4 linked regions of the Homo sapiens genome follow. The protein of the gene in region 3 interacts with the protein of the main gene of each other region in a biochemical or structural test. Each region holds a gene or a part of one and is shown on either strand. Other genes may lie near its edges. The genes, in order: NPM1, TRIP12, CDKN2A and CCND2.

Region 1 (6,586 bases), on a different chromosome or scaffold from region 3:
CACTCCAGCCTGGGCACCATTGAGCACTGAGTGAACGAGACTCTGTCTGCCCTGATTTCCTTTTTTGAACTGACTTAGTACTGTGCATAAAAGCAAACTCCCAAGTTACTCTTTTTTTTTTTATTTAAAGAGATGGGTGGCCTACTCTTGCCCAGGTTGAAGTACAGTGGTATGATCATAGCTCACTACAGCCTCCAGCTGCTGGGCTTAAGCAATCCTCCTGCCTTAGCCTCCTGAGTAGCTGGGATTACAGGCATGCACCACCATGCCTAGCTAATCATCTTATTCCTTCCTTAAAGGAAAGATTTTAAGAACAAAATTATATGGCGTGAATTTATTGATGATAATTCCAGTTGTATAATTAGCTTTATAAGGGAGTTTTGTGAGAATATTTGAGGAAATCCAGATAGAATGGGTTTTAATTAGGAATTGTATTTATTCTTATGACCTTTTGGAAATTCATTTCTTTTTCAGGGACAAGAATCCTTCAAGAAACAGGAAAAAACTCCTAAAACACCAAAAGGACCTAGTTCTGTAGAAGACATTAAAGCAAAAATGCAAGCAAGTATAGAAAAAGTGAGTAAAGTTATCTTAAAAAAACTTTGTCTCCCCCCTCAAATTGCACGTGTCTGGTTTGCATAGACTTGAATGTTTCTTGTTTTTTTGTTTGTTTTGGTTTAATATACTTGCCTGGTTCGTGGTATGAATTTTTTCAAAAATTTCTTATAAAACATTTATAATCGTGTCTGTGGTGATTTTTGCATATGCAAAATTAAATATGCCTTATTTTCCATTATGCAAGGAACGTAGTGCACTGGTTGCAAGATAACATTCTGACCTTCCATGTTAAAATAGATCAGTGAAAACCCTTTGCCTATTCTGGTTGTAAGATATGCTAGAGAACCAACAGAGGGCGTATGAGACTTCATTAAAATTACAAACAGCTGGAAAAGTAGATGCTGGCTGTTGCTTGGTATTATAGTTAATATTCATGATTGACCCTAGTCAGAAGTGATTTTCAGCAGATTGAGACATTTCTCTTTGCCCTTTACACCAAGTTGTCACCAGTTAATACATGTAGTAATAGCTAGATTTCGTGAATGACTAATAGGCTTAAATCTAGTTTCCTTTTGTCTTAAATAATGGAAATGTGGGAAGAGGGTTAGGTCTCTCATCTGCTTGACTGGGGGATTTGAGTAGGATATGGAATAAATGGTTTAAATGCCTTGGAAGCACATTTGAGAGAAGCTTTAATTCTATGAATAATACTTTTAGACTCCAACTATTGAGAGCAAATGTGGGGTGGTGAAAAATTGCCAACTCATTTCCCCATGTTTTTCTTGTAATCTATAGATTTTTCGTGGCTTCAGTAGATTCCTTGTACAGTGATAAGTCCACTGGAAAAAGAATTTTAGAACTGGAACATATTTCTTTTAGTCACACTGTAAACCCTTTAGCCTTCCTGGTTATCACTGATTTTTGTCCCTTGGATACAATGCTAAAATGACATCTTTTAGATGCCCCTCCCCTCCATTTTAATATGGTCCTATCTCCTTGGTTTAATTGCAGGCGCATTGAACAGTCCTGGGCACTACATGTAAATTAAGCCCAAAGATGGGGAGAAAGGAAAAGGAGAGACAAATATAGTCCATACTGAGTGTCATCAACAATCCAGACTGAAGTCTTCTATTTTAATCTCAATCCCCTTTTCTGATTTGCCACCCATGCCTCTTCAGGCTGGAAACAATCTCTTGGTTCCCTAAAGCACTTTCTTCTGACTGCTGTGATTCAGTGAACCTTGCCCTTTGCTTTCTATTACTTGTGCATTTGCCTCACCTGACAATGTTTTAAATCGCCTTTGTATCTCCTTAGCTGCTCAATAAATATTTGAATGCATCAATTAAGAATGTATGTGACAATAATTTTGAAATGGAAATTGTGAGGTTTATTTTACTAGGTTATTGGAGGCAGTTAAGTTTCTTAATGCTATACCTGATTCTGCCAAAGTCCCTTGGACATTTGAAAACCTTTTCAATCTTTTAAAAATGCATAAAAGATACTTAGAGGGAAAGGTATTAATTAAATTTAGTAAAAACAAATATATTCAATGCTTTAAATTCCAAAGTAGTGATAAATACAAACATTTCAAGATATTTGCAATAGTAATGTTTTGAAATTTTGGTTACAAAGTCACAGGTCTTGCCAATACTGTTGTAGTTTCTTGCCTATATCCGTAATTTGAAGGAAATGGTGAGAGTGATTAGAGAAGTGTAATTACTGTAATTTTTTCCCCTATTGTAGTTTCTTGCCTGTATCCATAATTTGAAGGAAATGGTAAGAGTGATTAGTGAAATGTAATTACTGTAATTTTTTCCCCATTCAACTTTATATATCTTTAACTGATGACCAGATCATTGTTGTTCTGAACCAGTTTGTGGTCAGCAAGTGTTTTGTGGGGTTTTGTTTGTTTGTTTTTAAAGAACAGTTTGGGTCACTTGACATGGTTCTCCAAAGGGATGTTATGGGTTGTATTTGGTTCTGGGTGATAACCGACTTGTTAGATAATTTAGATAAGCAACCGAGTTGCCATGTTTGTTTGTCGAATCTCAAGTGTAGCTTATATTTTATGTTCCTAGAGAGGTTGTCAGGGAAGATTTGACCCTTTGGCAAATCTGTTTGAATAGAGATACTAGCCATGCTGCCCAATAGGGCTTTCTGGCCCTGAAAAAGATACGGAGTATTCTTGGAAAGTTGAAGGGAAAAAGAATAAACTGATCCATGTAGTAGCATGCAGATTATTGAGGAATTTTCTAAAGGTATCTCTCTCGGTGTATTTCTCTACTTACCTGTAATAATGCTTTTGTCTTAATAGGGTGGTTCTCTTCCCAAAGTGGAAGCCAAATTCATCAATTATGTGAAGAATTGCTTCCGGATGACTGACCAAGAGGTAACTGGATTTTCTGGGGACATGATTAAATCCAAGTTTTTTTGTGATTTATTATGATTCTGCCTTTACCCTTTTTAAGTGTTGGCTCTTTTTAAAAAGTTCCTAACCACAGATAATATTTCATTTAATGAAATACCTGAAAACTCATGTATTTAATGAAATGCATGAAGAATACAGTTGGCAGTCTGAGATGATAACTTTAGTATATTTTTCCCAGATTTCCTATAGTTGGTAAATTATTTCTTGGTTATTGAATTCAGTTTTACTTTTTTGGTACTATGTTGGTTAAGGAAATTGCTGTGGTTTTCCTTGCTGTTCCATTTGACTGCTTGGGGCAGTCTGGTCTTGGCTTTTTTGGGAGTTGGTAGAGATCTTTTTTTTTTTTTTCCTAGATCTTATGGGAAATACATTATGCCAAAATCATCCTAACATGAAATCTGGAAGCAAGACACTAAATTGTGGCTACTACCAGATACATAAGCTTGAGTTAGCTGTTAGATTTTACAGTTAGTACATGTGAAAGTCTTAGTCAACATAAAGATTATGCATTTATTTTTGCTCTTATTTACAGTTGACTCATAAGTGTAAGGACAATGTAAAAGTGGTTAAATAGGGATGTTAGGTATCGTGTGGAGAACGGATGCTGCATTTAATGGTCTTTAGGTTTCCTGTGGTCAGCTTTTTTCAAAAAATTAGGAAAATTTGGCAATTAGCTGGTTTTTTTTCTGCCATAGTATTTTGCACTTCAATTATTTAATTGCACTTCAATTTTTAGTTTTCGGGTTCGTAAAACCCTGATAATGGTTAATTTTGAGTTTAGCTTTGTGAAAGTTGTAGTGATGGGCTATAAGATGATCAGGTTCAGTCTTTGGTTGCTGTTCTGTTTTTTCTCTACATTTGAATCCTAAAGTTTAAAGTGTGAGTTTTGGGAGTTTATTTGGAATACTAAACATTGATTAATCATAAATTATTTTGAAACTCCGCGTTATGCAACTGTTTATTTAATATTGAAAATAGTGGAAAGTCAGACATAAATAACCAGCATGTACTAACAGCTAAGCAGCATAAGAGATGCATTCTTCAACTACTGCCAAGGAAAGTGATGATAAATTTAATGATTAAGTTGCAGTAGTCTTCTGTACTTTATAACAAAGGCTTGTAGCTACAAAGTCTTGTAGCTATTAAATTACTGAACCAGCACTTCTACAAGAAGTATTTTCTTTTTATAAAAAGTATTTTTGGCCAGGTTGGTCTTGAACTCCTGGCCTCAAGCAGTCCTCCCATCTTTTCCTCCCAAAGTGCTAGGATTACAGGCACGAGCCACCTTGCCCAGCCTACCAGAAGTATTTTTTTGCTCTAGAATTGAAAGTGTTCTCAAGTGTCAGAATGAAATTTCTGGAATAAATAGTAAATGTTTAATAACTTGAACTTGAATTGCTGTTACAGAGATTATCAAAACTAAATGCTTCCTGTTTTTGACATAGAGATGCATGATGCAAGCAACGACAATGTATATTTGTTTGAACCTGATGATAAGATCTCTGGCTGGGCGTGGTAGTTCATGCCTATAATCCCAGCACTTTGGGAGGCAACATGGCAAAACTCTGTCTCTACTAAAAATACTAAATTTAGCTGGGCATGGTGGCATGTACCTGTAATCCCACCTACTCAAGAGGCGGAGGCAGGAGGATCGCTTGAACCTGGGAGGCAGAGGTTGCAGTGAGCGCCACTGCACTCCAGTCTGGGTGGCAGAGTGAGAGTCTATCTCAGAAAGAAAGATTTCTATGATATTTAATATTGGCATTCGGTATTCAGTTACCTTGTACCTGAGAACCCATTGGCTGTGAAACAGTGACAGCTGAGAGAATCCTGAGTCATCTCATTTCTAGTTCTTGGTGAACTTCTGGACTTTTCTTCAGAACCACCTTGCCATGTTGGCCAGGCTGGTCTTGAACTCCTGACCTCTCAGGTGATCCAACACCTTGGCCTCTTAAAGTGCTGGGATTACAGGCATGAGCCACCATGCCTGGCCAGCTGTTTTTTTTGTTGGTTTGTTTTTTGTTTTGGTACCCATCTGTAGTGTGATCTTGGCTCACTGCAACCTCTGCCTCTTGGGCTCAGGCAGTCCTCCCACCTCAGCCTCCTGAGTAGCTGGGCCTCCTGTAGTTGCACACCACCAAGCCTGGCTAATTTTTGCATTTTTAGTAGACAGGGTTTCACCATGTTGCCCAGGCTGGTCTCAAATTCCTGAGCTGAAGTGATCTGCCCGCCTCAGTCTCCCAAAGTGTAGGGATTACAGGCGTGAGCCACCATGCCTAGCCTCAGCATATAGTTTTTTCTAAATGTACACATGCCCAGGCACACATGCACAGGCAATTCAGAATAAGTTTCTGGTGTTTATGTAACTTTATTTGCCAAATCTGGCCAACTCTAAAGCTGATCTCGGGAGATGAAGTTGGAAGTAACATTGGCCATATGGGTCTCTGTTCTTTCTGTTGATTTCCTTAAGTAAATAATGCTAAACTATTAAATAATTATTAGTATATTGTTCACATTTTTATGACTGATTAAAGTGTTTGGAATTAAATTACATCTGAGTATAAATTTTCTTGGAGTCATATCTTTATCTAGAGTTAACTCTCTGGTGGTAGAATGAAAAATAGATGTTGAACTATGCAAAGAGACATTTAATTTATTGATGTCTATGAAGTGTTGTGGTTCCTTAACCACATTTCTTTTTTTTTTTTTCCAGGCTATTCAAGATCTCTGGCAGTGGAGGAAGTCTCTTTAAGAAAATAGTTTAAACAATTTGTTAAAAAATTTTCCGTCTTATTTCATTTCTGTAACAGTTGATATCTGGCTGTCCTTTTTATAATGCAGAGTGAGAACTTTCCCTACCGTGTTTGATAAATGTTGTCCAGGTTCTATTGCCAAGAATGTGTTGTCCAAAATGCCTGTTTAGTTTTTAAAGATGGAACTCCACCCTTTGCTTGGTTTTAAGTATGTATGGAATGTTATGATAGGACATAGTAGTAGCGGTGGTCAGACATGGAAATGGTGGGGAGACAAAAATATACATGTGAAATAAAACTCAGTATTTTAATAAAGTAGCACGGTTTCTATTGACTTATTTAACTGCTTTATACTTTGTCAAAGAAATAATTAATGTAGTTAGGAATGGCAAATAGTCTTGTAAAATTCTATGAGAATGTCCCTGCCCTCCCCTTCAATATTCTCTCTGGAGCTAACCACTTTTTCATCATAAGGATTTAGTGCTGTGTTCCCACCTCCTGATGATAGTTAACAATTATTATAACTATGCAACATGTTTCCAAATGTTCCATTAGACCTCCTATCTGCCTATTCTAGCCTCACTTGCAAAGAAAATGTGGCATGTTAAAACAGCTTAAAAGCAGCCTTTCAACCTGTATGGTTTTTTCCCCTAGGCTGGAGTGCAGTGGCACAATCTCAGCTTATTGCAGCTTCTGCTTCTTGGGTTCAAGCAGGTCTCCTGCCTCAGCCTCCCAAGTAGCTGGGATTACAGGTGTGAGCCACCAGCCCGGCTAATTTTTGTATTTTTAGTAGAGATGGGGTTTCACCTTGTTGGCCAGGCTGGTCTCGAACTCCTGAGCTCAAGTG
Region 2 (7,034 bases), on a different chromosome or scaffold from region 3:
TAACTACAAGGTATCTCTCGATGGCTTGTACCAAAGCCAGAGGGTCAATCTTGACAGGTCCACCCTTCCACTGCTTCACATTTGCACAGTCTGGATGCCTTTGTAACTGGCATTTTAATTGATGTGTGTTGAAAAATTTTAAAGCCTGTGATCCTCTGTTGAGAGAAAAGCTCAAGATAATTTGTGAAAAAAAAGTTAGTCTATTATTTTCACATTTAATATACATTAATTCAAATAAAGGCAAGTTAATACAAACTGCATTTTCATAAGACACACTAGTACTAAGCATTTACTTACCAGTTCTGTGAATGGTAAAGCCAATAATTCAAGTTATTTAGAAAAAATTTTTATACGTAAGAAATAAAAGACGGATGTGTATGCATGCATATGAAAACCTTAAGTCAATATTTGATCTCTGTCCCATCATAAATCCATGGGAGCAGAAATACTTCACCCATGAATATTTAATTATTTTTCTGGAACAAAAATTCCTGAACTATTTAAGCACACTCACTTCTGCAATATTTTGCCCATTCCTATTGAATTATATTTTTTAAAAAGAAAAAAAAAACTCTTTATTTCAAAGATTTCAGCTACAATATTACATTAAAAACTAACCTTTAAAATTTACCTTGCTATAATAGTTTTGAACGAAGCGGTTTAATAGCTACTGCAGTTGAAACCTGGTCATGATGTTTAATTGCTCATTTCAGAAAAGCTCTGGCAGGAGTCAGATACAAACTTAAACTGTGATTATCTGTATGATTCCACAAAGCAAGCTTGTCCAACCTGCGGCCCACAGGCCACATGCAGCCCAGATGGCTTTGTATATAGGCCAACATAAATTCGTAAACTTTCTTAAAATACAATGAGTGTTTTTTTTTTTTAAGCTCATCAACTAACATTAGTGTTGGTGTATTTTATGTGGCCCAAGACAATTCATCTTCCAATATAGCCCAGGGAAGCCAAAAGATTGGACCCTCCTGCACATAAAGCACACAAATAGGGATGTGGAGAATATTCCATTTTATGAATATATACATATGCAAACATATTTTATATAAATTTGGACACAAAAAGCTTCATGATTTTCTCAAGCACAGGTCAAAATGCCCCCTTATTTCATGAACTCCTCCAGGAAATCATAACGATCAAAACTGAATACCACACACTACATTAAATTTCAAAGCAGAAAAGAAACCCTAGTCCATGATGTGATTGCTTTATCACTCAAAAATGCATATGGTTTTTAATTCAAACAAAGTTTTTTAAATGTTTTTAAAACGTCAAAATGTGGATTTAAAAACCAAACTAGGCTGAGTGTGGTGGCTCAGAAATCCCAGCACTTTGGGAGGCCAAGGCAGGAGGATCACTTGGGCCCAAGAGTTTGAGACCAGCCTGGGCAACAAAGTGAGACCCCGTCTCTACAAAAAATAAAAAAATTAATGGAACATGGTGGCACATGCCTGTGGCCCCAGCTACGTGGCAGGCTGAGGCAGAAAGATCTCTTCAGCCAGGAGGTCAAGGCTGCAGTGAGCCATGTTCACACTAGTGTAATTTGGCTTGGGCAACAAAGTAAGACTCTGTCCCAAAATAAATAAATAAATAAATAAATAAATAAAAACCAAACAAATTTCCTATTTTCTAGGCCTCCGGTCAAAATATTCCATGAAACTTGTAACATTCCACAACATAGAACAATTCTTTCCTGTAGCACCTCAAGAGTCCTTAAAACTACATTAAAAATATATATATTTATTAAACTAGTAAAACTTCAAACATTTGACCCCATCAAAATACAAAGTTATAGCCACTAATATTACATATAAATCATATCGCTCAAAATGTAAACATTACTCACAGCCACAAAAAATTTTTTATCCCTACTGAAGTTAAACATAAAGTTCTTAAGGAAGTTTTGTATGCTGAAGTGTATCAATTTAAGGAAAACTAAGCCTATTACAAGTTACAAATACAATCACTGGATTATATATTTATAAAGCATCCTGTTTAAGGCATATGGTATAATTTTAAAGATAAGAAAGCATTTGATTCATTCTTTAGAGTGCTTAATTTCTTTCATCATTACAGCTGAATGTTTTCTGGGCCAATCAAGACTTTACCAGACCTCTTGCCATCTTACTTCAGTGAAATTAAGTACCAAATTCCAGTGGCAAGGGTATAGCCAGGCAATGGTCCTTACCTGCCTCCTGTCCCATTTCCACTAGGGAAATCATGTACTTTGACTGGAAATTGTTCCATCTGGCTGAGGCAGTTGTTCATCTTGTGAACTAATGCCAACAAAGGTGCATTACCCACTGGTTCCACTCTTCCAATGGGCTCTTCTCCAGGAAGCTAAAGTTATAAATAAACAAACAGGTTAAACAAAGCCTTTTCAAAACAAAAGTCTCCTCAAAGAGAAGATTTAATAAGCAGCTTTATAAAAGAGAATAATTTGTCTATTCATCTTTATCTTTTATGGCAGATTTGGTTTGAACGATGTTACCACGTCAATTATTTCAATAAAGACAACTGTTTTGTACAGCCCACAATCCTGTATTCACAATCTCTACATCCAAAGGCTCTGAAAACACAAGTCACTTGGTGGCAAAATCTGATCCAAACAGACATAAGGCTATTTACAGTCTTTATTTATCTGATTTTAGTAAGAATATTCATGTTATGCTATAAAAATATTTAATGCATATAATATACAGTGCTATTCAGAAACTGCTGGGAATTTTAATGTACTACACACTGTAGGACCTTTGAAACCGACCAAACTCCAGGGGTTTCAGAAAAGAGATTGCACATAATCTTAAGTATGCTGTAAAACTATACATAATACTGTCACGCTTCTAATGAATCTCCAATAAATACTAACTTTGCTTTAGGTTGACTCACAAGTTAAAATACAAGCAATGCTCAAATGCCTCTGAGGACTGCAAGCGCATGGTGAAATAGTGTTAATACATAGGAGAGCTATGCTAAGCCCTATTACACAGATAATAGGGAACGTTTCCAAGTGATGCCTTCTCTTTAAGCCACTGTAAAACAAGGAGAATGCTGTCAACAGCATCCAAGGATTACCCTCTTGCTCTGGCCCACTTAAGAGTGAAGGAAGGGGAGCCACTCTGTGGCTTTGTAATCCACATTATAAACGGTGACATAAATGGTCATTAAGCGCCCTTGATTGGAACTGTTACAACTGTATTTTATGTACAAAACAAGAAAATATAACTCCTCTATCTTATTATAGATGTCTGTTTCACTAAAAGGAACTAATACAAACTTCAATACATTTAAAAACAAATATTGCAAGTAAAATACATTCACAGGTGAGAGACTACTATTAATGGCTCATCCTGCAAGCAAAAAAGACTCAAGATACTTCAATCATAGAAATAGTGACATGGGCTTTGTTAAATCCCCATTTCATTGTTTTACTATTTACTTTGATATACAGAAGTTGAAGGATTCCAACTATGTGAAAACCTAGAAGTTTTCCCTCAATGTCTTGACCAAGACCTGCTGGAAATTATTACTGAGATGAAAATATATGCATTAGTGAGCACTGATTCTTAAAAGATACACAGGCATTATTAGATAACTTACTGGAGAAGAAAAAAATACATGAAGAAATCGCTTTAATCTGATCTCTCTGCTCACAGCATCCTTTTCACTTTTAGATGTCAAATAAAGCAACAGCTGCTTCACAAATCCACTATGTTGGATTTCAAATGATGAAACATCTGACTCTGAGACTATGCTACGGATTTCTACAAGGCACTCAGCTCCACCATCCACCTGAAAGAGTTAGGAAAAGTATTTCTATATTGATTTAAGCAGCACTTAAAAAATACACAACTCACATATCCTCAAAAGGAAATGAATATATTCTCAACGCCCTTAAAAAAGAGGGCAGGGGAGTGGTACAGTCTTAGTAAATCCTTGGAAATTATGATTTTAAACACACACACACACACACTAAATATTTCATGAGGAAAACCAGGAATCCATAATAACATAAGAAGAAAATCTTCATATTCAACCAATGTAGTTTTCTTTAAAAAAGAGTATTTTAAAAGATGAGAACAGAAAACTGAAGAATAAGGGGCTATAACACCAGAATGGAAAGATGAATCAAGAATACAAGGTGTGGCTTTAAATTAATACATTTAAGGTCTCAGCAAAATGAACAATTTCTTGGAAAACATACTACCAAAACTGCTCAAGGTACATCAAAAACATCAAAATAAATAAATAAATAAAAATAAAAATAAGAACAAAAACTGAGAACCAGATGAAACGTAAAACACTTATTAGTAAACCTCTAGCCTCTCCTGCCACTCTGAGACCCCATGTGAAGAGAGGGGCTAAGGAAGGCCTATCATCTATACCTATAGTTGAGGATGACTTAGAAAACAGATGTGCTTGTGAGGACATTTCTGAAGTTTCTTCATTTGTCAAGAATGATGAGATGTGAAGGAAAGAAAGTCAAAGATGAGGTTTCTAGTACATTTAATACAGACTGATGAATCCTGATAGTCAAGGGATAAGTAAAAGAAATGCCAGCACCAAGGGTGTATATAAGGTAAAAGTCGATGTAGGATAGCTAAATCCATAGGAAGCTAGAGAGTCATGAAGGAAAAGAGTAGCAGGAGATGCTGGGAAGAGACTGAAAAAGACCAGCAAAATGCACTGGACACAGCACCTGGAGGTTGAGTTGTTCGGTTGCAGCACAAAGTCTCTGAAGGACATTCAATGCAGGGTTGCTTCCATCCATATTCTCAGAACTGAAATAACGTTCTACAAATTTATGTGCCTGCTCCTTAATCCAACCTTTAATTTTTTCTCTACAAGAAACAAAAAGGAGATATTAAAGTCCCAGTGTATGTAGAAAGGATATAACTTCTGATCAAGGCAAATAGCTGCTACATTTAAAATTCATCCTGGTCTATGCTTACAGTTTAAAAACTCCAGATTCCATAACCAAATTAACTTTCACTTTGAAAATGGGCTACGATGTACCACCTGGAGAACTGTTTAAAAACTTAAAATACACTGCAGGTCATTACATGAATTGTAAACAAAGTGTAATAATTTTTTGGAACCCTGCAATATAACACTTTCCTAAGTGTTCCCTTTACTTCCTAAAGTACATACATATCTGCATTATCCTTAACTTGTGTTTCCTGGAGAGCTGAAGTAAAGATTTACAGACCAGAAACATGCGCCTATTAAGGATGTAATAAGCTATGGCAAATAAGACCCGGCTGCTTAAATTACAAATGCTGATGGCTTCAGAAATCCATTCACTTAATTATTTTTATACACTGAAATTAAGAAAAACAACCAACAAAACCAAAGAGAGCATGTTTATTTTCTCAATGACATTTGGTCTTTTAAAATTTCTTATCTGCAGAGGGAAGTAATCATGTTGGTATGCTACATGCAGAACCCAAAAATAAAACAAGTCCCAAGGACTTAAAAAAAAAAAAAAAGGCTCTCCCCTAAAATCCTGAAGTTCCATTGTAATGGGTAGAGAAATTTTATCATAAAAGATGTGAAGAATGTGGACAGAAAATGTCAGCTTTTCCTTGTCTGGAACAAAACTGAGGAAGAGGTTCCCCAAGGAATACAATGTGGTTTTGAACGTATAAGACTTTCAGCTAGGTATGCTGGAAGGAGTTTCAAAGCACATGACTGGAACTTAGGACAAAGCCAGATGCAGGGTTCATAAACTGAGAAACTACCTAATTCTTGAACTATGCTTTTAAGAACAAATTAAAGTGCTGTGTCTATGTATCGTCTCCACACAATAAACGTACTGGCTGAAATAATGTTTAAGTTTTTCTGATATGGGAATAGAAGAAACATAAAACTCCCCCCACTTCACCTATTATTGGAGATGGTATCCTTTGAGGCAGCCCTGGCAAGGCCACTACCTCCCGCAGTCCGTGCTGGCTCAATGTTGTTGCTGTTGGACTGTGTACTTAACCTTCCCCATGTTTTTGGATTCAAGCTTGCCAGGAAAGAAGATTTAGGTGACTGAGTAGTGGTGGGGCTTTTAGCTATGAAAAGAAAAAAGAACTACAGTTAAGTCATTTTAGTTTAAGTGATGAAAAACAACTGATTTTTAAGATTCACAGTCTTAACAGATTAATTAACTGAAAGAACTAAGAACACTTAGTCCTCAGGAAACTTAGGCATACTTCAAGAGCTACTGGCAGTTTTAATAAAGTACATTTCTGCACCTGCTACCACCCTCCCCTTTACCTCCCCATAGTTTCATCAAAGGGGTTACCTTGATTGTCTACTTTGTCATCATCTCTTGGAGGTGAGTACTTTGGCCTTCTTGGCCCTCGTTTTGGCAGTCGTTTTCTCTTTAGAACATCACTTAATCGACTGTCCATGGGAAAATATGAGATAAGTTTAGCAATTACCACTGTTTTATATCTTCACTCACTGAAAAAGCAAACTAAAATGGCAGAAACAGGGAGTAATAAAATACTGTCAGGCCGGGCGCGGTGGCTCACGCCTGTAATCCCAGCACTTTGGGAGGCCGAGGCGGGCAGATCACGAGGTCAGGAGATCAAGACCATCCTGGCTAACATGGTGAAACCCCATCTCTACTAAAAATACAAAAATTAGCCGGGCGTGGTGGCGGGCGCCTGTAGTCTCAGCTACTGAGGAGGCTGAGGCAGGAGAATGGCGTGAACCCGGGAGGCGGAGCTTGCAGTGAGCCGAGATAGCGCCACTGCACTCCAGCCTGGGAGATAGTGAGACTCCATCTCAAAAAAAAAAAAAATACTGTCATAACAAGGTATGTTCTTGTTTAGTGATTATTTAATGCCAATTCTGTGCCAGTCATGTTCTAGAGGTGTGCAGACACAGCAAATGATTATTCAGAAAATAACTAGCTGTTTAACTATACTGAACTATGAAACATAAAGCCAGATAAGATGACTGATCAATTTTCTATGTGTTCCACTTTAAATAGTAGTATATAAGTACATAAAGCAAATATGCAA
Region 3 (4,640 bases):
TGCTCTCATTTGACAAAAATGTCAAATATTTGAGATGATGGATAGGTTACTTAGCTTGACTTAATAATTCCCCATTGTGTTCAAAGATCATAACTTCATATTGTACCACATAAATATATACAACTGTACTATCCCAATATATAATTTTAAAACTAATATAATGAAAAAGAAATTGAAGTTCAACATTCCCAGAAGCTAAGTGTAACTTAAAAGTTTTGTGAGAATTTGTTTTAACAAACAAACAAGTTTTCTCTTTTTAACAATTACCACATTCTGCGCTTGGATATACAGCAGTGAACAAAAAAAAAAAAAAAAATCTCCAGGCCTAACATAATTTCAGGAAGAAATTTCAGTAGTTGTATCTCAGGGGAAATACAGGAAGTTAGCCTGGAGTAAAAGTCAGTCTGTCCCTGCCCCTTTGCTATTTTGCCCGTGCCTCACAGTGCTCTCTGCCTGTGACGACAGCTCCGCAGAAGTTCGGAGGATATAATGGAATTCATTGTGTACTGAAGAATGGATAGAGAACTCAAGAAGGAAATTGGAAACTGGAAGCAAATGTAGGGGTAATTAGACACCTGGGGCTTGTGTGGGGGTCTGCTTGGCGGTGAGGGGGCTCTACACAAGCTTCCTTTCCGTCATGCCGGCCCCCACCCTGGCTCTGACCATTCTGTTCTCTCTGGCAGGTCATGATGATGGGCAGCGCCCGAGTGGCGGAGCTGCTGCTGCTCCACGGCGCGGAGCCCAACTGCGCCGACCCCGCCACTCTCACCCGACCCGTGCACGACGCTGCCCGGGAGGGCTTCCTGGACACGCTGGTGGTGCTGCACCGGGCCGGGGCGCGGCTGGACGTGCGCGATGCCTGGGGCCGTCTGCCCGTGGACCTGGCTGAGGAGCTGGGCCATCGCGATGTCGCACGGTACCTGCGCGCGGCTGCGGGGGGCACCAGAGGCAGTAACCATGCCCGCATAGATGCCGCGGAAGGTCCCTCAGGTGAGGACTGATGATCTGAGAATTTGTACCCTGAGAGCTTCCAAAGCTCAGAGCATTCATTTTCCAGCACAGAAAGTTCAGCCCGGGAGACCAGTCTCCGGTCTTGCCTCAGCTCACGCGCCAATCGGTGGGACGGCCTGAGTCTCCCTATCGCCCTGCCCCGCCAGGGCGGCAAATGGGAAATAATCCCGAAATGGACTTGCGCACGTGAAAGCCCATTTTGTACATTATACTTCCCAAAGCATACCACCACCCAAACACCTACCCTCTGCTAGTTCAAGGCCTAGACTGCGGAGCAATGAAGACTCAAGAGGCTAGAGGTCTAGTGCCCCCTCTTCCTCCAAACTAGGGCCAGTTGCATCCACTTACCAGGTCTGTTTCCTCATTTGCATACCAAGCTGGCTGGACCAACCTCAGGATTTCCAAACCCAATTGTGCGTGGCATCATCTGGAGATCTCTCGATCTCGGCTCTTCTGCACAACTCAACTAATCTGACCCTCCTCAGCTAATCTGACCCTCCGCTTTATGCGGTAGAGTTTTCCAGAGCTGCCCCAGGGGGTTCTGGGGACATCAGGACCAAGACTTCGCTGACCCTGGCAGTCTGTGCACCGGAGTTGGCTCCTTTCCCTCTTAAACTTGTGCAAGAGATCGCTGAGCGATGAAGGTAGAATTATGGTCCTCCTTGCCCTTGCCTTTCCTTTTTGTGATCTCAAAGCATCCTCCCTCCGCCCCCATTCCATGGCCCCAGTTCCCTACTCCCACAGCTGTCTGCTGAAACTGCCAACATTACTCAATTGTTTCTGGGGGGAGGAACATTTTTTTTTGAAACAAAATAGATATATGAAACAGTACACGGGAATTAACACGAATATTTAAGGTAAAACATGACCTTGAAGATTATGAAATCCATCTTATTTTGGCCCAGAACGGGGGCATTGGGCTCCTTGGGCCATAGGGGAGCTGGGGAGGACAGGGTGAAGAGTTAGCTCTAAGCCCTCTGCTTGGAGATGCTGTAAATACAGAACGCAAAATCACCTTCGAAGTTAAAGACGCGAAGTTCTTCTTTACTCGGCCCCTCCTCCCCTCCCCCCCGCCAATTCCCTCCAGTTACAGCTAGCATCCAGGTCCCGGGAGGTGAAGAAGGAGACTTCGGCTCCAGTTACAGCTAGCATCCGGGTCCCGATTTAGAAGGAGCTGCCAATTACAGCGCGGTTCCAGGGCTGAGCAAAAAGCCTGAGGAGCCAAGTGGGAGAGGGAGTAAAACTACTGAATTGGGCCACAAGCAAATGAATAAACTGAACGACTCTTAACCAAACCTAATATATTTAATCCAAACACACAAGTCTTTCATTTCTTCCCTCCTCCCTTCCTTCTCTTACTCCCCAACACCCCCTCTTCAAGCACAATTAATTATATGGTTAGATTCTACTGCGTGATCAGCCCTGTTCTAGGTGGTGGGCACGCCAAGGTGAATGAGACCAAACAAGAGTCTTGCCCTCATGGGGTTTACATTTGGAGACAGAGTCGATCTGTTGCCCAACCTGGAGTGCAGTGGCGCGATCACAGCTCACTGCAGCCTCAAACTCCCTGGCTCAAGGGGTTCTCCCACCTGAGCCTCCCGACTAGCTGGGACCACAGGTGCACGCCACGACGCCTGGGTTTGTTTGTTTGTTTAATAGAGACGAAGGTCTCACCATGTTATCTGGGCTCAAGCGATCATCCCCCCTCCTCCTCCTAAAGTACTGGGATTACAGTCCCAAGCTATCTTGCCCGACCTGGGAAACAGACGTTAAGGAAGATAACAATCTATTTTCAGAGAGCGAGTTTATAAAACCAATGCAATGGGTAAATATGAAGTGTGAATAGGAGGAGAAGCTAAAGAGTGGTCGGAGAATCTAATGCAAGCTACGGGAGAAAGAAACTCAAGTGCAAATGCTGCCTCAGGAATAAACGTAAAAAGAGACTTTCAAGTGCAAATGCTCCCTCAGGAATAAAATAATCTTGAGACTCTCAAGTGTAAATGCTGCCTCGGGAGAACCGAACGGCGAGCTGGAGCCCATACGCAACGAGATTAGAGAGGAAGGCAGAAGCCAGAGCACATGAATAAATGAGCATCCATTTTGTTTCAGAAATGATCGGAAACCATTTGTGGGTTTGTAGAAGCAGGCATGCGTAGGGAAGCTACGGGATTCCGCCGAGGAGCGCCAGAGCCTGAGGCGCCCTTTGGTTATCGCAAGCTGGCTGGCTCACTCCGCACCAGGTGCAAAAGATGCCTGGGGATGCGGGAAGGGAAAGGCCACATCTTCACGCCTTCGCGCCTGGCATTGTGAGCAACCACTGAGACTCATTATATAACACTCGTTTTCTTCTTGCAACCCTGCGGGCCGCGCGGTCGCGCTTTCTCTGCCCTCCGCCGGGTGGACCTGGAGCGCTTGAGCGGTCGGCGCGCCTGGAGCAGCCAGGCGGGCAGTGGACTAGCTGCTGGACCAGGGAGGTGTGGGAGAGCGGTGGCGGCGGGTACATGCACGTGAAGCCATTGCGAGAACTTTATCCATAAGTATTTCAATGCCGGTAGGGACGGCAAGAGAGGAGGGCGGGATGTGCCACACATCTTTGACCTCAGGTTTCTAACGCCTGTTTTCTTTCTGCCCTCTGCAGACATCCCCGATTGAAAGAACCAGAGAGGCTCTGAGAAACCTCGGGAAACTTAGATCATCAGTCACCGAAGGTCCTACAGGGCCACAACTGCCCCCGCCACAACCCACCCCGCTTTCGTAGTTTTCATTTAGAAAATAGAGCTTTTAAAAATGTCCTGCCTTTTAACGTAGATATATGCCTTCCCCCACTACCGTAAATGTCCATTTATATCATTTTTTATATATTCTTATAAAAATGTAAAAAAGAAAAACACCGCTTCTGCCTTTTCACTGTGTTGGAGTTTTCTGGAGTGAGCACTCACGCCCTAAGCGCACATTCATGTGGGCATTTCTTGCGAGCCTCGCAGCCTCCGGAAGCTGTCGACTTCATGACAAGCATTTTGTGAACTAGGGAAGCTCAGGGGGGTTACTGGCTTCTCTTGAGTCACACTGCTAGCAAATGGCAGAACCAAAGCTCAAATAAAAATAAAATAATTTTCATTCATTCACTCATTTATTGTCAACATTTATTGAGCACCTATTACAACAATTTCATCGCATGGAAGACAGCATCGTTTCTGACACTGTTGTTTCATGTATCTCTTAGAAAAACGCTGCTATTAGACATCTAACACTATTTATCTTGAGGTGATAAAATATCAAAAGCCGTGTCTCAAGATCGATGAAATGCGGTTAAAATGATGAATAGAAACTCTAGGGGGACCTCATATCGATAGACTCGAGACTGGCACATCTGGAGATCCGTATTTATCCGGCTTCCCCTTCCAGATCACGCGAGGTTTGGGATATTTTGCTCACCAGGCCTCAGCCAGGTAACTGAATCCAGCCAACCCTGGCCCATAGTCTCGGAATCCGACTCGGCTCCCAGTCCCCGCCTCGGCGTTCTGAGACCCCCAGGCTGGGGTTCCAGAGGGCTGTGAGGTTGCGAATGACTGCTGCCAAACCGGAAGGAACTCTGCGGTTCTCTGCCACAGTGGGATTGTTGCAGGCAC
Region 4 (7,034 bases), on a different chromosome or scaffold from region 3:
AAGACATTGGATACTGTAATGGCTACAGTCAGTAAGGCACTTTATTTCCCCAAAGTAGGCTGCAGGCGAAGGGATGCAGGCTGCAGCTACAGCATGCACGTACACATTTGCTGATGGCTTCTCAAAACCTGAGCCGAGAATAGGGTCTGATAGCCCAGCCAAGTTTAAAAGCAGACACACACGAATGTAGTATCGTTGTGCCTGAAATGACCATTCTGGGTTGTTTAGAATCCAGAATCATCAAAAGCCATGTGGTATGAGGAAGTAATAAATATCCTCTTGAATCTTCTTACCCTATTTTGCACAAATGGATGGCTGCATGAACAGCTCTTGTAAATTGCTCTGAGTCCACACCAATAGAAACCTGCACTCATTCTATAGCTACAGAGGGTTTGTTGGCTTAAGGGGACTTTATCATCTCAGCATTAATTTCCCTTTTAAAGCTATTCTCAAGGTTGGACTGTCTCAGAGATAAACAAAGAGGAATCCTTTTGGCTTAGAAGCCAACTGGCTTACTCAGACTTCCTCCCCTTCCTACCTCCAATTCCCACACTACCAATATTATCTTCTTGAACTAGAAAATCAATTATTTACATGACATAAGGTGCAAGTCTATTTCTTCTCCCAGCCCTGTCCCCTGTGGCCCATGGAGAGAAAATTCCCCTGCCCTCTTGGAGAGAGTCATCTGATCCTGCCTTATGTTCTTAACCTTTCAGTCCCAGAGCTCCCAGGGCACAGTCTGGAGAGGCCCTAGAGGTGCTAGACTGCAGGGAAGCGCAGCTCCGTCTGAAGAGTTGCCAATCCTGCTAGCAATGGGATGCAGCGTGATGCTGTCAGGGTTGTCTTCTCCTCTGGCTTTGTCACTTAAGCCATGTGTGCCCCTGACCTGGCTGATAAGAGGCAGAACAGAGCCTCCAGTACAGAGCACATAGACCAAGGATGACCCAGTAGTAAGGCATGCTGTGCTCTCCAGTGGGGTCCTGAGGCAGTTCAAAATAAGGCCTCCTGGAAGAACAGCCCCTTCTTCAAGGAGCTCGCCTCTCAGCACGCATGGGGTGTTCTGCGGAGGGAACTGCCCTTGGCTTTCTCCTGCAGGCTTCTTGGCTGTTATGGACCCGCATGGAGTTTAATTATGCTTAGCATATATTTTTGGCATACTAGGATTTCTTCCCCCTAGGATTTGGCCAAAAGAGGGGAAGGATCAAAATTTGGCAGGCTGGGGGAACAACTCGGCCCCCACTGATGGAGAAAAAAACAAACAGATGGAAGTAAAGACGAGATAGAAACACAACAAGGTAGAAAAAGACCAGGATAATTTGGAACCCCTTTAGTGGGAGGTAAGAAAAAGAAGAGAAAGAACAACAACAACAAAAAGAGCAAGTTCAAATCCAAGGGGGAGAGCTCCTCTGGAACAAAACTCCTACCAAAGAGACTAAGAGCTAAGGAGAGGGCAAAATCCAGGATTCCTTCTTGTGTTTAAGCAGGAGCAGGCAGAAAAGCCTAACAACCCCCGACTTTCCCATCGGCAGCCCCACACCCATCATCACACAAGGCCCCAAGGATGGGAAAGAGAAAAGCTAGAAGGACCCAGGGGCCTCGGGACTACAGGAAGAGTGGAAAGTTACAGACTGTAAATAGAGTCGGGTAGGCTTGTGCCCTTCCTTATTTGTCCGGTTCTTTCATTTGCTGCTTCTGTTTAAGCTCAAGGGTCAGTCACCATGAAATGAATTTGCACCTCGGTTTCTCTTTAGGCTCCAAGATTCCCAAGAACTCCAGGGTTCCCGCTTTCCCCATTCCGTGGGACTCCTTGGGGCCCAGGAGAGTGTGCTGAGCAAAGCTGGCTCTTGAGAAAACTCTGGCTAGCTTACTTGCTGGCTGCTCCACTTCCCTCTCCAAAACTTCAGAATTCACCACCCATTGTCCCACCAGAAATCCCCTAGAATTTTAGGGTCATGCTAACTCACAAAGTCCTGAACCCTTCTAAACACACTTCCCAAGAGACTGACTCATCTGGAATTTCACCTCTGTAGAGAAGCAGCCTCTTCACCTCCCTTCAACTATCATCCCATACTTATCTGACCTATTTTTCTTATCCTGCCAATTCAGTGTGATTGAAAACCCGACCGTTTAGTACCGCTCAGCAGAGGGCCTGGGCTTGCATAGTGCTTGCCTGCGCAGTTTGAGACAGAGGAGGGAGAAGGAAGCACCATAAACGCTGCTTGCTGCAGGTTCATCTACTCGCAGATTCAGACCTAGGAAACCTGCAGAGATGATCCTAAACACAAGGTGTCCATGCCAGGGGAGGGGAAAGACGGAGGGGAAAAACTTCAAGATGAAAGGGCCCTTTGCAGATGAAGCCCCGCTTTTGAAAAAGCTCCAAGATGAGGATCTCCAAACAGCCTGGTGGAATTCTTTTTAGTCTGTTTCCTGACACCTGGTACCTAAGTGCAAATTACGACATCTGAGCCTACCGCATAAATGTTTGTACTGAACGTCTGCCTTGAAGGGGAGGGAGGATCCCTTGGTTCAATGTATTTTTTCCATCATGATGAGGATACCAGGGTCTAACTGGGAGCCCGATGGCCTCCATGACCAAAAAGGTCCCTGGGAGTGAGACCGCCCTGCCTTCCACCTGAGAGGGAGTCAGCCCTGCTCACACTGCTTCTGTATTCCTCATGCGAATGGGCTCCCAAGCAGAAACTGTACGGTTGTGAGGTATTATGAAAACAAAAGCGTGAATCATTGCCTTTTGTAGTTATTGATTTTGTCCAGTAAACCTGAGGTAAAGAATACTCCGTCTTTGAAGAATGTGATCAGAGGAAAAAAAAAAAACCAAAAAACCAAAAAAGAAAAAAAAAAACAACCATGAATATGCTACCAGAAGAAAACAAACTACGGAAGGGCTTTTCCAGTACGAAGAACTCATATCTCAACCATCTACTTCAGGACTTGGAATTTAAGCAGTAAAATAATATATTATAAAAATGTTTATAAAATAGCAGCACACTCTGTGAAACATTACAGCTAGGTACTGTCAACGTGAATAAGGATGGATGACTTTAGCTTCTTAGCAGCGCAAAAAAAAAAAAAAACCAAACTGAACAAAACAAAATTAAAAAAATGAGAGACCCTTAGATTGTTTTCCGTCTTCAACCCTCATACTATGAAACAAGGCAGAATCTGTGTATAAAATAATTCTTCAAATAGCCCTGTTCTGATTTTTCTTTTTTACTTAAAAAGGCAAATATTTTAACAAATAGCTTCATTACCTGTCAATTACAATTGTGCAAAAAAAAAAAAAAAAGTTGTTGCTCCAACCTCTTTGCTAACTGAATGCCTCTAAGAAGTGGAGAGGAAGAAAAATTCAAGTACGCTGAATACAACTTTGCAATAAAATTAACAACAACAATAAAAAAAAAAAAACGGAAAAGGGAACAAAATGCCACACCCTGATGTTCAGCCATCTATCTTTGCACCAGCAATAACTTTTCTTTCCATGTCCAAAGGAGAAGTATAGAGATGGGAATTAAGATCCTTCTGTGCCATCAGAATGGTAACAGATTTTAGTTTACAGGCTTGTCTGAGGAATGTTGTGATGGGAATGTCAGCAGGAAGGGGTGTCTCTTGAGTCCTGGTAGGAACACCAGAACTGTGTACCAAAGAACGCCAGATACCAGAAGCGAAGAGTAACCCAGACTGGGGGCAGGAAGGGAGGGGGCAAAAGAGAAGAGGGGAGGAGTATTCAGCATGACTTGCATAAACCATCCCATCTATCGCTCGGGAACAATTTTTCAAAGTGCTTTTCGAATGGAATGGTTTATAACAATGCTAAACTGTGAACCAGACATGCCAATCAGCACCAAAAATTAGTTTTTTTCTAAGAAGAAATGCCAAGGCCACATTACCCTTTTAAATACAATAACAGAAAAGACTCCATTCTGGATCCCACCCTTGGTCTCCATCTGCCTCCGTTTCATGTGAGTTTTGGTTATGGCCCATAGCTACATTTCCCCATTAGATAGCAATATGGTGGTGTCTGCAATGAACTGCATTTGGAAGAAGAAGCAGGATGTCACAGAACATGAAACCCAGGAGCCAATCACCTGTGTCCAACTGGCAAAATAAAACATCTTTTTTTAGGTAGCAGCTACTGTAGACAGCAAGAGGACATTAATGTAGAGATCCAACTACACTCCTGACTTAGTAACAGGTGGCTGAGAGCAAAGGTGCTTCTCCATCCCAAATGGTTCAATCATGTTGAGAGATTGTTTTGTACTCCTTCCCCATCATGTCCCTCCTTATTTCAATTCCTTCTTGAGTTCATTGCTTTGCAATCTAATCATGCCATAAATGGCGTACACAGTTCCTTGAAATTATACTACAAGGGGGTGTATGTGCTAGCTCATAACATGAAAAAAAAAAGTCTCCTCTAATTTGTTCCCATATTGCAGGCATACATATTCTCTAACTACTCTGCAGGTTTTCCTGTAAGCATTTTACTATTACTTTTACATAATCAAACAATAACTGTTCGCATATACAAGGGATTCCCTTATGCTGTACTTCAAATAGGCACCAAATGCTTTTTATTATTCCGTTTTCGTAGGACCTTTTTCTCTCACTTCTAAAAGATCTTTAAATATGATCTAGGTGGGGGCAGAATTTTTTTTTTAAGTTTCACCCTAAAACACAAAGAACAAAAACAACCAGAAAGAAGAAGAGACCAGATTATGGACGCGTCTCTCTCTTTCGGCCCAACTGGCATCCTCACAGGTCGATATCCCGCACGTCTGTAGGGGTGCTGGCTTGGTCCAGTTCATCCTCCGACTTGGATCCGTCACGTTGGTCCTGACGGTACTGCTGCAGGCTATTGAGGAGCACCGCCTCAATCTGCTCCTGGCAAGCTTTGAGACAATCCTAGAACAATGGTCCAGACCAGAGTTGTTAGTAAGAGGAACAGGACATAGAGCATCCTACGGAGAAAACATGCGTAATTTAGCTTGCATAAGTCTGTGCTAGTTTCCAGTAGAAATAAATGTGAAGTAAAGGAGGGATGTTCTTAAAGTGCCAAGGAACCTCACTACTCCAGGTGGGGTCCATGGGCTGGCAGCATCAGCATCACCTGCGAGCTTGTTGGAACCGCAGAATCTCAGTCAACCCAGGCCGAGCTATTCAGAACCTGCCTTTTAGTGGAGCCCAGGTGATTGGCATTCTGAGAAGCACTGGCCTAAATGATGGTCACTTATGGATGCCTGGTAATCAAGGGGCCGACCAGATGCTTTCTGCCTGGGGAAGCTGGGAAGTGGCAGAGAAAAGGGGAAGGCTACTAGAAGTGCTATGACATTAGCAAACTCAGCCCGAGAACTAGATAAGAAGGAAGCCAATGAACCAACGTACTGACCCTCACATAAACTGTAAATACTTTTTCTCACTCTGTCCCCCAGGCTGGAGTGCACTGGCACAATCTCGGCTCACTGCAACCTCCACCTTCCGGGTTCAAGCGATTCTCCTGCCTCAGCCTCCCAAGTAGCTGGGACTACAGGCACCCGCCACCGCGCCTGGCTAATTTTTGTATTTTTAGTACAGACAGGGTTTCACCATATTGGCCAGGCTGGCCTCGAACTCCTGACCTTGTGATCCGCCCGCATCGGCCTCCCAAAGTGCTGGGATTACAGGCATGAGCCACCGCGCCTCACTGTAAATACTTAAAAAAAAAAATCCCCAACTTTTTCTGCTTCTTTACCATTTCCTTAACTCTCATAAAGATATAATGCAGAATGTCTACAACATTCTGGAACCTTGAGCCATCCAATTTGGGAATAAGCAAGAATATGCAGCCTTGCTTTAGTATCAGTCTATATTGTAGGGGTAATTGACAGTGTGTCTGCCCCAGGCAGGAGCTTCTCTTAGGCAGATGACATGCAATGCAATGACAAGTCATGGGTATCACTAGACAGGGACCGTTGCTGGTGCTAGTAAGAGGGTGCAAACCGTAGACTTGCTTCTAACGGGCATTTTCTAGCCTCTCTCCTCTGCAAAGGTGCCTTTGTGCACTCTCTTAAGAAGCACATACATAAGGCAAATATGTTAAATTGAACCTCCCTGTGTCTTTTCATAGTTTAATATAAACTTCCCTTTTGTTTCTTTTACTGTGCAATTCTCCCCACCCAGAGGTTTCTATTTTGCCAAGCCCAAAAGCATTCTCTTTATTTCCCAAAGATCTAAAACACAGCTGGCCAGGCATATTGGCTCATGCCTGTAATCCCAGCACTCTGGGAGGCTGAGGCGGGAAGCTGAAACCAGGAGTTCGATACCAGCCTGGACAACACAGCAAGCTCCCGATCTTTAAAAACAAACATATAAATAAACAAAATAAAGCTGGAACTAACCACTAAGGAACAAAATTTCCATACCCCTAAATTTTCCTTTCCTATCTCTCATCTATCCCACATTTCAAACTACAGCTTTCAATGAAAACTAAGATTAGGAACAACCACAGACTAAAGGCCAAAGGCAGAGACGAAATATCACCTGGAACAATGAAATGAGGAAGGGTGGTATCTGCTGCCCACCCACTATACTTGCAGGTGGCACCTAAGTTATTTAACTTTTCTGATCTCAGTTTCCCCACAAAATAATCAGAGTAAAGGGCAACTGAGATGATACTGATATATGTGCAGTGCTAAGTGGAGCTCAATAAATGATCGTGATTATGTATAACAATAAACTGGTCCTGGAACCTAAAGAATTCAGATTTCTTTGAAATGAGGTATAGATTCGCATTTAGTCAAGACTAATGAAGCGTGTGTCAAGATCCTGACAATCTTTAGTCAAGACTGTGTGTCTGGGAAGAGTGCTGAACATGACAGACGTGACGCAGCAGCAGGAGTCTCCGTGCCACCCTGAACGAGGCTGAAATGGAGTCGGGCGCTGGCCTCTGGGACTTGCTAACACCTCTCAGACGTTCCTGTGGCATCTCCTGGTTACATCCCTTACCCTTACCCTGTCCGACCTGTTGAGCTGAATGAATGACG

The links.
Region 1: the proteins of CDKN2A (region 3) and NPM1 form a complex in vitro, tested with the Homo sapiens proteins (3 studies listed by BioGRID).
Region 2: the proteins of CDKN2A (region 3) and TRIP12 form a complex in vitro, tested with the Homo sapiens proteins (2 studies listed by BioGRID).
Region 4: the proteins of CDKN2A (region 3) and CCND2 form a complex in vitro, tested with the Homo sapiens proteins (2 studies listed by BioGRID).

The regions. Positions count from the first base shown.
Region 1 is NC_000005.10:171,404,828-171,411,413, forward strand, and holds the end of NPM1 (nucleophosmin), read left to right. Parts: intron 1-474; coding exon 475-576; intron 577-1,569; coding exon of another isoform or gene 1,570-1,578; exon of another isoform or gene 1,579-2,298; intron 2,299-2,872; coding exon 2,873-2,947; intron 2,948-5,699; coding exon 5,700-5,738; 3' UTR 5,739-6,073; downstream 6,074-6,586. UniProt on the Homo sapiens protein: Involved in diverse cellular processes such as ribosome biogenesis, centrosome duplication, protein chaperoning, histone assembly, cell proliferation, and regulation of tumor suppressors p53/TP53 and ARF.
Region 2 is NC_000002.12:229,792,976-229,800,009, forward strand, and holds part of TRIP12 (E3 ubiquitin-protein ligase TRIP12), read right to left. Parts: intron 6,409-7,034; coding exon 6,308-6,408; intron 6,075-6,307; coding exon 5,900-6,074; intron 4,857-5,899; coding exon 4,715-4,856; intron 3,808-4,714; coding exon 3,616-3,807; intron 2,356-3,615; coding exon 2,204-2,355; intron 171-2,203; coding exon 1-170. UniProt on the Homo sapiens protein: E3 ubiquitin-protein ligase involved in ubiquitin fusion degradation (UFD) pathway and regulation of DNA repair.
Region 3 is NC_000009.12:21,967,252-21,971,891, reverse strand, and holds the end of CDKN2A (cyclin-dependent kinase inhibitor 2A), read left to right. Parts: intron 1-227; exon of another isoform or gene 228-563; intron 564-683; coding exon 684-990; intron 991-1,388; coding exon of another isoform or gene 1,389-1,486; exon of another isoform or gene 1,487-2,087; intron 2,088-2,098; coding exon of another isoform or gene 2,099-2,160; exon of another isoform or gene 2,161-2,311; intron 2,312-3,120; coding exon of another isoform or gene 3,121-3,167; exon of another isoform or gene 3,168-3,317; intron 3,318-3,649; coding exon 3,650-3,663; 3' UTR 3,664-4,140; downstream 4,141-4,640. UniProt on the Homo sapiens protein: Acts as a negative regulator of the proliferation of normal cells by interacting strongly with CDK4 and CDK6. This inhibits their ability to interact with cyclins D and to phosphorylate the retinoblastoma protein.
Region 4 is NC_000012.12:4,297,743-4,304,776, reverse strand, and holds part of CCND2 (G1/S-specific cyclin-D2), read right to left. Parts: intron 4,918-7,034; coding exon 4,768-4,917; 3' UTR 1-4,767. UniProt on the Homo sapiens protein: Regulatory component of the cyclin D2-CDK4 (DC) complex that phosphorylates and inhibits members of the retinoblastoma (RB) protein family including RB1 and regulates the cell-cycle during G(1)/S transition.